Linked DNA regions of Homo sapiens: region 1 is linked to region 2. Evidence: fine-mapped expression QTL. A gene starts in region 2. The other region holds a variant in brackets. All regions are shown on one strand. Distances are between the middles of the regions. Region 1 overlaps RPAP3 (RNA polymerase II associated protein 3). Region 2 holds the start of RAPGEF3 (Rap guanine nucleotide exchange factor 3).

Region 1 (5,000 bases), 63 kb before region 2:
TAAGGTGACTACGAGAGACCAACAAGAGACAAACAAACAAAACATCTAACAAAGACCTACCAAACACAGATGCAAAAAATTGTAAGACTGTTTTCAAAGACATTAATGACAATCTAAGTGGAGATATTTCACATTCATCTATAATAAAGTACAAAAACATACAATATGATTCTCTCCAGACTGATTTATAAATCTAATGCAATTCTAATCAAAATCCCAACAGGATATTTTAACGAATTTGGGAAGATGATTCTAAAAGTTATATTGATGAGTAAAAGTCCAAGAATACCCAAGACATTCCTGAATAATAAAAGGTAGGAGAATATGCAGTACACTAAATATTAAGACTTACAATTACAATGCTATAATAATTAAAGATAGTGTGGAATGGATGTAAGGACAGGCAACAGACCAGTGTAAAGAACAGAGATGAGAAAGTGATCTCGGCAAACATGACATATGACAATAGTAGCACGGCAGATCCACGGGGGAAAGTAGGGCTATTCCAAAAATAGAGCTGGAAAAACCTTCAGCATATGTGAAAACACCTAAATGTGAAAAGTAAATCTTAAAAATGTTTAGAAGAAATTAGAGGAGACTATTAGGAACTCAAGCAGCAAACTATTTTTTTGAACAAATCATTTTATAAAGTCCTAATCTTTTTAAAAAATCAAGAAGTTGAAATATATTAAAATTGAATGTTTCTATTCATTAAAATTCCATAAAGAAGATAAGCTACAAATTGAGAGAAGATAGTTATTATGGAAAAGACCAAAAGATTAGTTATCCAGAATAAAGAACTCTCAAAATAAATCAATAGGAAAAGCCCTAAAAAAAAAAATGGCCAAACACCAAATAGGCATTTCACAGGGAAAAAAAAGAAAAAAACAAAAATGGAAAATATATAAGATGCTTAACCTTACTAATAGTTGAGAAATGAAAACCTTACTAATAGCTGAGAAATGCAAAATGTCATTTCAAAGACACAATGAAATGCCATTTTACACCCACCAGATTGAAAACAATTAAGAAGCCCAATTATATCAATGTTGGTAAGGGTAGGAAATAGGTATTATTATACACTGCTAATGAGAATGTAAACTCATCCATTTACCTTTGTAACAACTGTGTAACAACAAACTACCTTTGCCATCATCCTGTGAAGCTGAACATCTACACATTTTATGACCCAACACCAAGAAACATGTACAAAAATGTTCATAGCATTGCTGAAATAAGGAAAGAAAGGACAGAAGGTGGGCAATAGAAAGAAAGAGGGACAGAAGGAGGGAAGAAAGAGTGGGAGGGAGAGAGAAAAAGAAAGGAAGAAAGGAACGAACCAACAATCCAGCAACACAAGAATAGACACATAATGGTATATTTCTAAAAAGAAATTATCCTATATAACAGTTACAATGAGAGCTCTAGAGCTATAAGCATCAAAACAAGAATGAATCATAAAAATATAATAAATAGGTGAGCCACAGAAAACTACACACAGTATGATATACTTTTAAGCTCAAAAATAAGCAAGATTATACTATATATTATTTAGGAACATATACATATATAATAAACCTTTTTTAAATCAAAAGGATGACAAATATATAATTCAAGATAGTGGTTAACTGGGAGGGAGGCAAGGGACAGGATACAGAAAGGAGCATCAAGGTAACTTCAAAAATAATGGTAATGTTCTGGTTCTTAAGTTGAGAGGGGTGCTTTATAGGCTTATTTTAAACTATTCTCTGTAATTTATGTATATGCTACATATATTGCAGATATCGAATATTATAAAATGTAAATATTCCCCTAATTTTTAGAGATTAATATCATGAGTTTCAAAGACATAAAAATGTTAAATAGTAAAAATTCAGATACCAATAAAATTTGTATTTCCAAATAATTAAAACAGTAAGAATGTCTTCCTTGATGGTGTTTATCTTTTTAAAAAACCCCTATGATAGGTTGGTTACCTGCATGTGATAAGACAATACCACATTTATATTCTTCCACATTATTTACTTTAAAAGTCAGTATGACTTAAAGACAAACAAATGTTGAAACATATTTTAAGTTTTCCATAATAAATGTTCTCTAGATTAAATAGTGGATAAATGGTTTTTCAAAATGACAGGATATTAATTTCTAAAAATATCCAACTAACTTTTTTAGCTTTGTGAATTAGAAAAGAACACTATTACTAAATCTTTAGAGGAATACCTCAGTAAAGTGAGCTATGGGAACAAGGTTTTAGCACCAGATGTTTAAAATGGCTTAAACAAAATAATTCAATAAAAAGGAGTGAGCTATAAGAATTTACAGTTGAAAAGAAAATGCAATACATTTTCAATCTGTCCTCCACACTTTATTCCACACTTTTTTTTAATAAGTCTCCATATATACATAAGACATTCACATTCACACACGTCACAGAAAGTCCTTACTTTTTCAGTCTAAAATATGCTGACGCTCTGTTCGTTGGCAACACGGGATTATATGGATCGGCATCCATGCCTTTTGTGTAGCAGTCAATTGCTTCATCATATTTTCCTTGTTTGAAGTATTTATTGCCCTGAAAGAAAATTATATAAAATGATCTTTTTTACAAATTCTGAAATTCACTACAGTTGACCCTTGAACGACCCAGGTTTGAAGTGCATGGGTCCACTTAAATGTAGATTTTTTTCAATAGAAGTCTACACCAAGTGTGCCTGCCTCCCCTTCCACCTTTTCCACCTCTTCTGCCTCTGCCACCCGAGAGAGCAAGACCAACTCCTCCCCTTCCCCCTCCTCAGCCTACTCAATATGAAGATGACAAAGATGAAGACTTTAGATCCACTTCTACACAGTGAAATATATTTATATAAATAAATACACATTCTCTTCCTTAAAATGTTCTAATAACATTTTCTTTTCTCTAGCTTACTTTTTTGTAAGAATACAGTATATAATACATATAACGCATAAAATTTGTGCTAATCAACTATTTGTATTATCCATACTGCTTCCGGTCAACAGTAAGCTATTAGTAGTTAAGTTTTTGGGGAGTCAAAAGT[T/C]ATATGCAGATTTTTTACTGCATGAGGCACTGACCCCACACTGTTCAAGGGTAACTGTACATGGTCACTGTATGGGTACAACCCAAGAGCCCAGGCAGAAAAATGAGTAAAATACCCAGCATTATACTCCTTATTGACAATGCCAACCTACAGAAATGTAACCAAAAAAAAGCATCAAGAGTTTAATCTGAAAAGAGTTCCACCTTTGTGAAAGTAATATAGCTGGTTTTATAATAATGAGGCATCCCTCAGGGAGATACTGAACATTCCAAAAAGTAACCAAAGATAGCCTTTGATACCCGGGAGTGGAATATAATATTTACGCCAAGAATCACACACTAATTTCAAGTTACTTCAATCTACTACTAAAAACACTGGACAACTCCAGGTACAGTCCAAGCATTTTACATAGAATAGTTCACTTACTACCCATAAGAACCCGTTGAGGTTGGTAATATTATCATTTTGCAGATGAGAAAACTGAAGTTCAGAAGTTTAAAGAACTTATCAGAGATTTGAACCCAGGTAATCTGGCTCCAGAGCATGTACTCCTAACCACCATGTTACAATGCCTCCAGAGAGGGATGTAGCCAAAAACAACATAAAGTTTAAACACGTACTAAAACTATGCTCAAGAAACTTTACGATCCACATGATTTTCAACATCTCCTGCTTACATGAAAAAAAACAAAACCTAACTAATTAGTACCTTTTCTTTTAAAACAAGAGCCTTTTGTGAATCTACATGAATCCCATCTTCTTCCGACTCTGATTCTTGAGACAGAGACTCATGGGTACTATCGTCTTTGTCAAGCTCATCAAGGATACGGTCCTAAAATCAAAAGACGGAAAACAGGGGTCATAATTATATGATTAGGAAAAAAAAGAAAAAAAGACATACTAAAAAAATACACTCAAATGAATGTAAATTGTTACAATCTAAGGACCTACAGCCTTACAAAGCAACCCAAATCTCTCATTGTTAAGATTATATCCAGAGAAAAAGATGCCTTAGCTTAGAAAACCAAGATCAAAACCAAAAATCTGACTTTGAACTCATAAAGCTAAGTCAACAGATTGTACAAATCACCCCTAAATCACGAACTATTAGCAGTTAGGTCTTATGGCTTAAAGGAAGTTTGCAAATAGCCCTAAACTAATATAATTAGCACCCAGTAGCAGAAAAAGTTTAAAAAAAAATTTTTTTCTTCCTTATTTTAAAACAAAAAACTGCTATTTTAAAACTGCTATTTTAAAACGAACAAAAAAAAGAGCACATTAACTCCTAATCTTCACAATAACCTATGAGGAAGGTATAATTACCCATGTTTTTCACTTGAGGGAACTGAAATGCAGAAGTTAGTTAACTCATTCAAGGTCACTCAGCTAGTAAGTGACCAAGTCTACTTCCTCCAAGAGCCCTCAATCGATATGTTATACTGTCTCTCGGTGTATTCCAACATATAGCTGCCTCTACTAAAGGAAAAATAAAAAATGTGCTAGTCCCACGATTCTCAATCTCTTTTGACTCACACTACTTTCATGGTAATAAATAATTTCATAGACCTCCACCAGAATTTTCCTCTTATTTTTTATATGATAAAACAATGATTTTTAGTAAGATTTTATTTTTATTTTATTTTTGAGACAGCATCTGGCTCTGTTGCCTAGGCTGGAGTGCAGTAGTGTGATGTCAGCTTACTGCAACCTCCATCTCCCGGGCTCCAGCCATCTTCCCACCTCGCTCTCCCAAGTAACTGGGACTATAGGCATGCACCACCATGCGCAGCTAATTTTTTTATTTTTTGTAGAGACGGGCTTTTGCCATGTTGCCCAGGCTGGTCTGGATCCTAAGCCCAAGCAATCTGCCCGCCTCAGCCTCCCAAAGTGTTGGGATTACAGGCGTAAGCCACCGTGACGACCATTAGAGTTCATTAAAGC
Region 2 (5,534 bases):
TCAGTTTTTTCAACTCAGCCTCACTGTAAATGGCAGTTGGGCAAGGTAGGGGGAAGGAGGGAGAGGGTGGTGGTTATTCCACTCAAAAGGACTTGCCAATAAGAAGTGAACTCTCGGCTAGGCGCAATGGCTCATGCTTGTAATCCCAGTGCTTTGGGAGGGCGAGGTGGGCAGATCACGAGGTCAAGCGATCAAGACCATCCTGGCCAATATGGTGAAACCCCATCTCTACTAAAAATACAAAAATTAGCTGGGCGTGGTGGCGCACACCTGTAGCCCCAGCTACTCAGGAAGCTGAGGCAGGAGAATCACTTGAACCTGGGAGGCAGAGGCTGTAGTGAGCCAAGATTGCTTCACTGCACTCCAGCCTGGTGACAGAGGAAGACTCTGGTTAAAAAAAAAAAAAAGAAAGAAAAGAAAAAAGAAATGAACTCTCCCGGCCAAGCGCAGTGGGTCACGCCTGTAATACCAGCACTTTGGGAGGCCAAGGCAGGTGGATTGCTTGGGCCTAGGAGTTCAAGACCTACCTAGGCAACATAGCGAAACCTGGGTGGACACACGCAGTGGAGACATAACTGAATCTCAAGCTAAGCTACTCTATTTAGTCTGGATGGTTGGGGATAGCTTCTCTGCTGATTTGGATAGTACAGCCATTATCTTGCCTCCCAAATCCCACCATTCTTTCCCCTCCCTGCTCTCTCCTTCATTCTTTCAGGTCCAGAGATGTTTCTCACTAGCAAAGGGCACTTTGGTGATCTCAGATTCTCCAAATGTCTCAGAATCCTTCCCTGAGCCCCCCAAAGGCAGGTACCAAGCAGTGTCCACATGATCACCTCACCCTAAGACCAAAACGCAGAATTAGCACAGTTCAGTAACTCACTAAAGGAGAATGTTGCCACGGTGATGCACCCAGAACTGTAACCAAGCTTACCTCACTCCAACCCATTGACCCGGCCCCCATACCTCCCACCTCCACCTGGAAAGAACACACAAGTACCTAACTCAATGCCGGCTCACTGAGGTGACAGATAAACAACAAATCCCTTTCCCCTTCCCCCCATGCCCAAACAGAGACATTTGGGCAGAACACACACACAGACACACACACGTTGCAGCTGTGTGAGCCACCCACGCACACTGCAGACAAGCTTCCTGACCCAGTGTCCACGGCAGCTGTACCACTGTACACCCCCAGAGCAAGCTGGGCCACCAGCAGCATGCCAAGCCATGATCTAGGCCCCCCTCTAGCTCTGGTACTGGCCCTGGCACCTGGGCAGGTGAAAGGTACTCACCCAGCGCAGCCCCTGGATGCAGCTCGGACGCTGGTGCTCCAGCAGCAGCTGGTAGGAGCAGCTTCGGGGCCGGTGCATCCTTCTCAACACCATGTTGAGTAGTGTCCCCTCCGGCACCACGTCAGGGAGGGCTCCCACCCGCGGTGCTCCCAGAGCTGGGCTATCCTCCACAGCCAGGCCCACCTGCCAGCAGCTCTCACCTGGCCAGCCCACCTGTGACACGGGGAGGAAAGTGGACAGCCATGGGACACGACTGGGGCGGCTGGGCCACAGTACAACTGCCCCAGGCAGAACTACTTCCTTAGAGTCCTCTGGACTGGTCAGGCGGAGGTGCTGCAACCCTGCCAGGAGCTGGGGGGAGGAACAGGAAGACCTTCACTGGGGCCTGCCGGTCTGGCGCACTTAGGGGTCTCCAGCTGGCTCTTGGAAAAGATCAGGCCCTTCTTAGTCCTCTTTGGAATTCTGTCCCATCTCACTGCCCATGCCCCTGCAGGGATCTCCACTACCTCCCAGTATGAAGCTATAGATTCACTAGGTCTCCCAGAAATGCAGCTTCGGCTTAAACCCTTCTCCTCTCCTCCTCAGCCCTGACTAACCCTCCCTCTCCCACCCAAACTCCCCACCGTGTCAGCTTCCTCTCCCGCCCTCTCCTGCTCCTCCTCAACCCTGACCCCACCTTACCCACCTTCATGTTTCTTTTCAAGCTCGCACAGCCGTGCAGGCTCTAGCAAAAGGCTGGGGGGTCCCCAGCGACCCCCATCAGCTTTGATAAGGGGATCCGGAGGGTGCCAGTGGGTAAGTCCAGGTACAGTGAACTGGGCCAGTGCCTAGCTGGACTGGCTGCCAGGGCAGCAGGATGCAGGGCTCGGTGGAGAGGCTCCTCTTGGGTGAGTAGAGGGGTGGGGGCGTGGTGGGGGGACGCCACCCAGCCACCGGCGACAGGGAGCCCCGAGCCTGCGCCTTCGTCTCAGACGAAGGAGCCAGCTGGCACCGGGCGCTGAAGCAAGGCTGCGCTGGCACCGGTCCGGGCGGGAGCTGTCACACCCCCTGCGCTGCCCGCCCCCTTCCCCTCCCCAGGACTGGCGGAGGGGGCGGGGTGGAGGCGCCCTGCCTTACGGTAGAGGAATGCGTAGGGGAAGGGGGCCGGCACTGGCAGGCTTTGGAGTCCGCACCCGGGGGTACCAGAGTGGACATCCGCCTGAGCCCAGAGTATCCCCAGGGGGCAGGAGCGGCCCCGAAGTGTGTGGAGGAGGCCGCAACGGCCGGGGTGTCAGGGATCCGGCGGTGAGTGGCTGCACTGGCCGCCACGTGGCCGGGAGGAGAAATGCAAACAAGGAAACCGGGGAGAGCGGGGAGGGGGTGAGTCACTGCGGCCTCACCCGGGAGGGAAATCCGGGCTGGGGCCGCTTCCCGGCTGGGGGTGTCTGCCTCCTGTTTCGGTTCAGGGTCTCCAGCCGCCCGGGGGAGGGAATAGGCGGCTTTCCCGCGGGGAATCCCGCTGCCTTGCCTCCCACAGTTCCGTTCCCAGACCCACGCCCCACTGCCCCCTGCCCCAGCACACACACACCGGGAGCAGTTGAGGAAACTGAGGCTGGAGAGGAAGGACTGCTCTCCAGAACGGGTAGGGGCCCTAAGAGGAGATTGGGGTTGTGGCAGAGCTTCCAGGGGAGCAGAAGGTGTTCGAGTACCACGCCCCCTACCGCGCGCTCCCTGGTGGCCGGGTAGGTTGAGGCGGAGACCGGGCATTCCAGCGCCCTGCTAGGCAGGCTTGCTACCGAGGCTCCACGCCTCCCTGGGCCTCAGTTTCCACCACTGTGCAAATGGCCCAGCGCGGGCCTCTTCGCCCCACTCCTGAGAGGGTGGAGAGACAGTGGCCGGGGACAGCGACCCGTAATTCAGGACGATAATGAGGGTTTGGAAGGAGGTGAACGCCCCACCCCCAGCTTTTTAGGACTTTTTGCCCCTTCTCTTCCCTTTTCCCTTTGCTGTTGAGCCAGCCCAGACTGGGAAGAAGTATCTCTAAAAAGCCTATACCCCAATTTTGGGATGCCAAGCCCGCATCCTCCACCATGATTATTTTCTTGAAAGTGAGGAGAAGACTGGGAAGAGGTAGCTCTAAGAAGCCTATACTCCCAATTTTGGGATGCCAAGCCCCCATCCTCCACCAATTATTATTTTCTTGAAAGTGGGGAGAGAAATTTTAATTGTGATTAAAATCCCATTTTTAATGTATACATGTATAAAAAATGTTTCCCAGAAGCTTACTAAAATGCAGGCTCCGTCCCCAGCAATTCATATTCAATCCTATTGGCATGAAATGGAAAATCTGTATTTGGAACAAACACCCCAGGTCATCTGCTGTGTCCACACATTAAGAAACGCTGGTGGAGTTTTAAATGCCTCTCCGGGGAAGGAGGAAAGCCTGAGAATGAATCTGACCTCAGACCCAAATCCATTCAACGGAGTTCTGGTAATTTGGAAGAAGGAAGAGCAACCTGGAAACTGACAGGAAAGGATGACAAGTTGGGAGTCACAGGTATGCATGGGGAAGAGTTAGGGGGATGGAGTCATGAGTTTCGGGTTGCTGGGGCCAGTGCCCTGGCCTAGAAGTTCTTGCAGGAAGGCTTCCTGAGACTGGCAGTTGGGTCACAAAGGGGTCCCCTATTTCCTATTCTTGCTGCCCTTACTCTGGGCAGGTGGAAGATGCTGGGGAGTGAGGCAGGACACTTGTATACATTTCAGCAGAGCTACAAAATCTAATCATGTGCGGGCACTCTTTCAAGTGCTTTCCATGTGTTTAATCCCTGCCACGATCCTGTGAGGTATGTACTTCTGTTATCCTCACGTCACAGATGGGGAAACTGAGGCTCAGGGATATTAAGGAAATTGCCAAAGTCACACAGCTAGTAAATGGTGGAGCTGGGGCATGAATCCAGGTTGTCTGTCTCCACGTACTCACCATGGTATACTGCGTATACTCTGTATGTATTCTATTCTTCTAATGTAGACTAGACTGCCTAGGAGAGTCTACTCAAAAAAGGAAAATTGAGGCCGGGTGCGATGGCTCACGCCTGTAATCCCAACACCTTGGGAGGCTGAGGTGGGGGTGAATCATGAGGTCAGGAGTTCAAGACTAGCCTGACCAACATGGTGAAACCCTGTCTCTACTAAAAATACAAAAATTAGCCAGGCGTGGTGGCGTGCGCCTGGAATCCCAGCTACTCAGGAGGCTGAGGCAGGAGAATTCTTTCAACCCGGGAGGCGAAGGTTGCAGTGAGTCAAGATCATGCCACTGAACTCCAGCCTGGGCGACAGAGCGAAACTCCATCTCAAAAAAAAAAAAAAAAGGCAGGGGGGAAATCGAATATGTTTGTGTTGAGGTGTGGGGGAGCCTCAGGGAGCCAAGGATCACTCAAATCGGTGAAAATGAAACTGTCCCAACCCACTCCCCCACCTATGTTCCCCTTCAACACTACTCTTGCCTTTCTTTTTTCCATTTCTTTTTCATTCCCCCTCTCTGGGGAGATTGAGAAGAGGACCTGGGGTGATTACCTATTGGCTCCTAGCCTGGGGAGATCATAGGGAGTAGATCTTTTATGTGTCCCATTTCTAGCTTGTCCTACCTCTAACAGGCAAGGCCCCCAGCCTGCCATCAAAGCAGATGACGGGGCAGGTTTTTGCCTTCTCAGGATCCCTGGATGGGGACCCGACAGTAGAATTACTGCTCAGCAGATATTTGATCAAGGCTGAGGCCTAGAAGGGGCAGAGGACTGGGAATGTGTCTGAGGAACACATGCAAGCAAGATGGTAACAATCATGCCATGTCCTGGTACCGCCTCCACCCTCCTCTGACTGTCATTAAATGCTTGGCAGGTGTGTTAAGACAGATAAATAATAATAAGAATAGTCAACATGCACCAGGCCCTGTTCTTGATACTTTGTATATATTCACTGACTGAATTGTCACAACAACCCTATGAGATAAGGTTGTTATTTTTGTTATTCCATTTTACAGATGAGGGACCTGAGACACAAAGAGGTTAAATGACTTGCCCAAGGTCCCATACTAGGAAGTGGTAGAGCCATGAGTGACTCTGCCCAGGTGGTTTCTACCCTGTGTGCTTTACCACTCTGCAGTCCTGCCTCTGAAACATACTGACAGCTCCTATAAAGGGGGAAAAACTCATATCCACAGCCATTTGCCCACACCTTGGTACAGATGATGGAAACTAAACAGCAGGA

The links. PIP is the estimated chance that this variant, and not a neighbour inherited with it, causes the effect. A credible set is the group of variants that fine-mapping cannot tell apart.
Region 1: its variant is the best candidate, but not a certain one, in a credible set for the expression of RAPGEF3 in whole blood (TOPMed, PIP 0.85).

What each region holds. Positions count from the first base shown.
Region 1 is chr12:47,693,829-47,698,828 of GRCh38, forward strand. RPAP3 (RNA polymerase II associated protein 3) reads right to left here. Exons shown (of 17, transcript NM_024604.3): 4 at 3,769-3,891; 5 at 2,448-2,575. Among named protein-coding and RNA genes, the nearest start is that of RPAP3, 9.7 kb to the right of the region's middle. The variant T/C (reference allele first, on the strand shown) is at 3,060.
Region 2 is chr12:47,756,574-47,762,107 of GRCh38, forward strand. It overlaps RAPGEF3 (Rap guanine nucleotide exchange factor 3), which reads right to left and starts at 2,307. Exons shown (of 28, transcript NM_001098531.4): 1 at 1,978-2,307; 2 at 1,293-1,505. The coding sequence starts at 1,983. It also overlaps a transcript of SLC48A1 not described here. RefSeq lists enhancers at 1,518-2,186, 2,187-2,855 and a silencer at 2,127-2,476.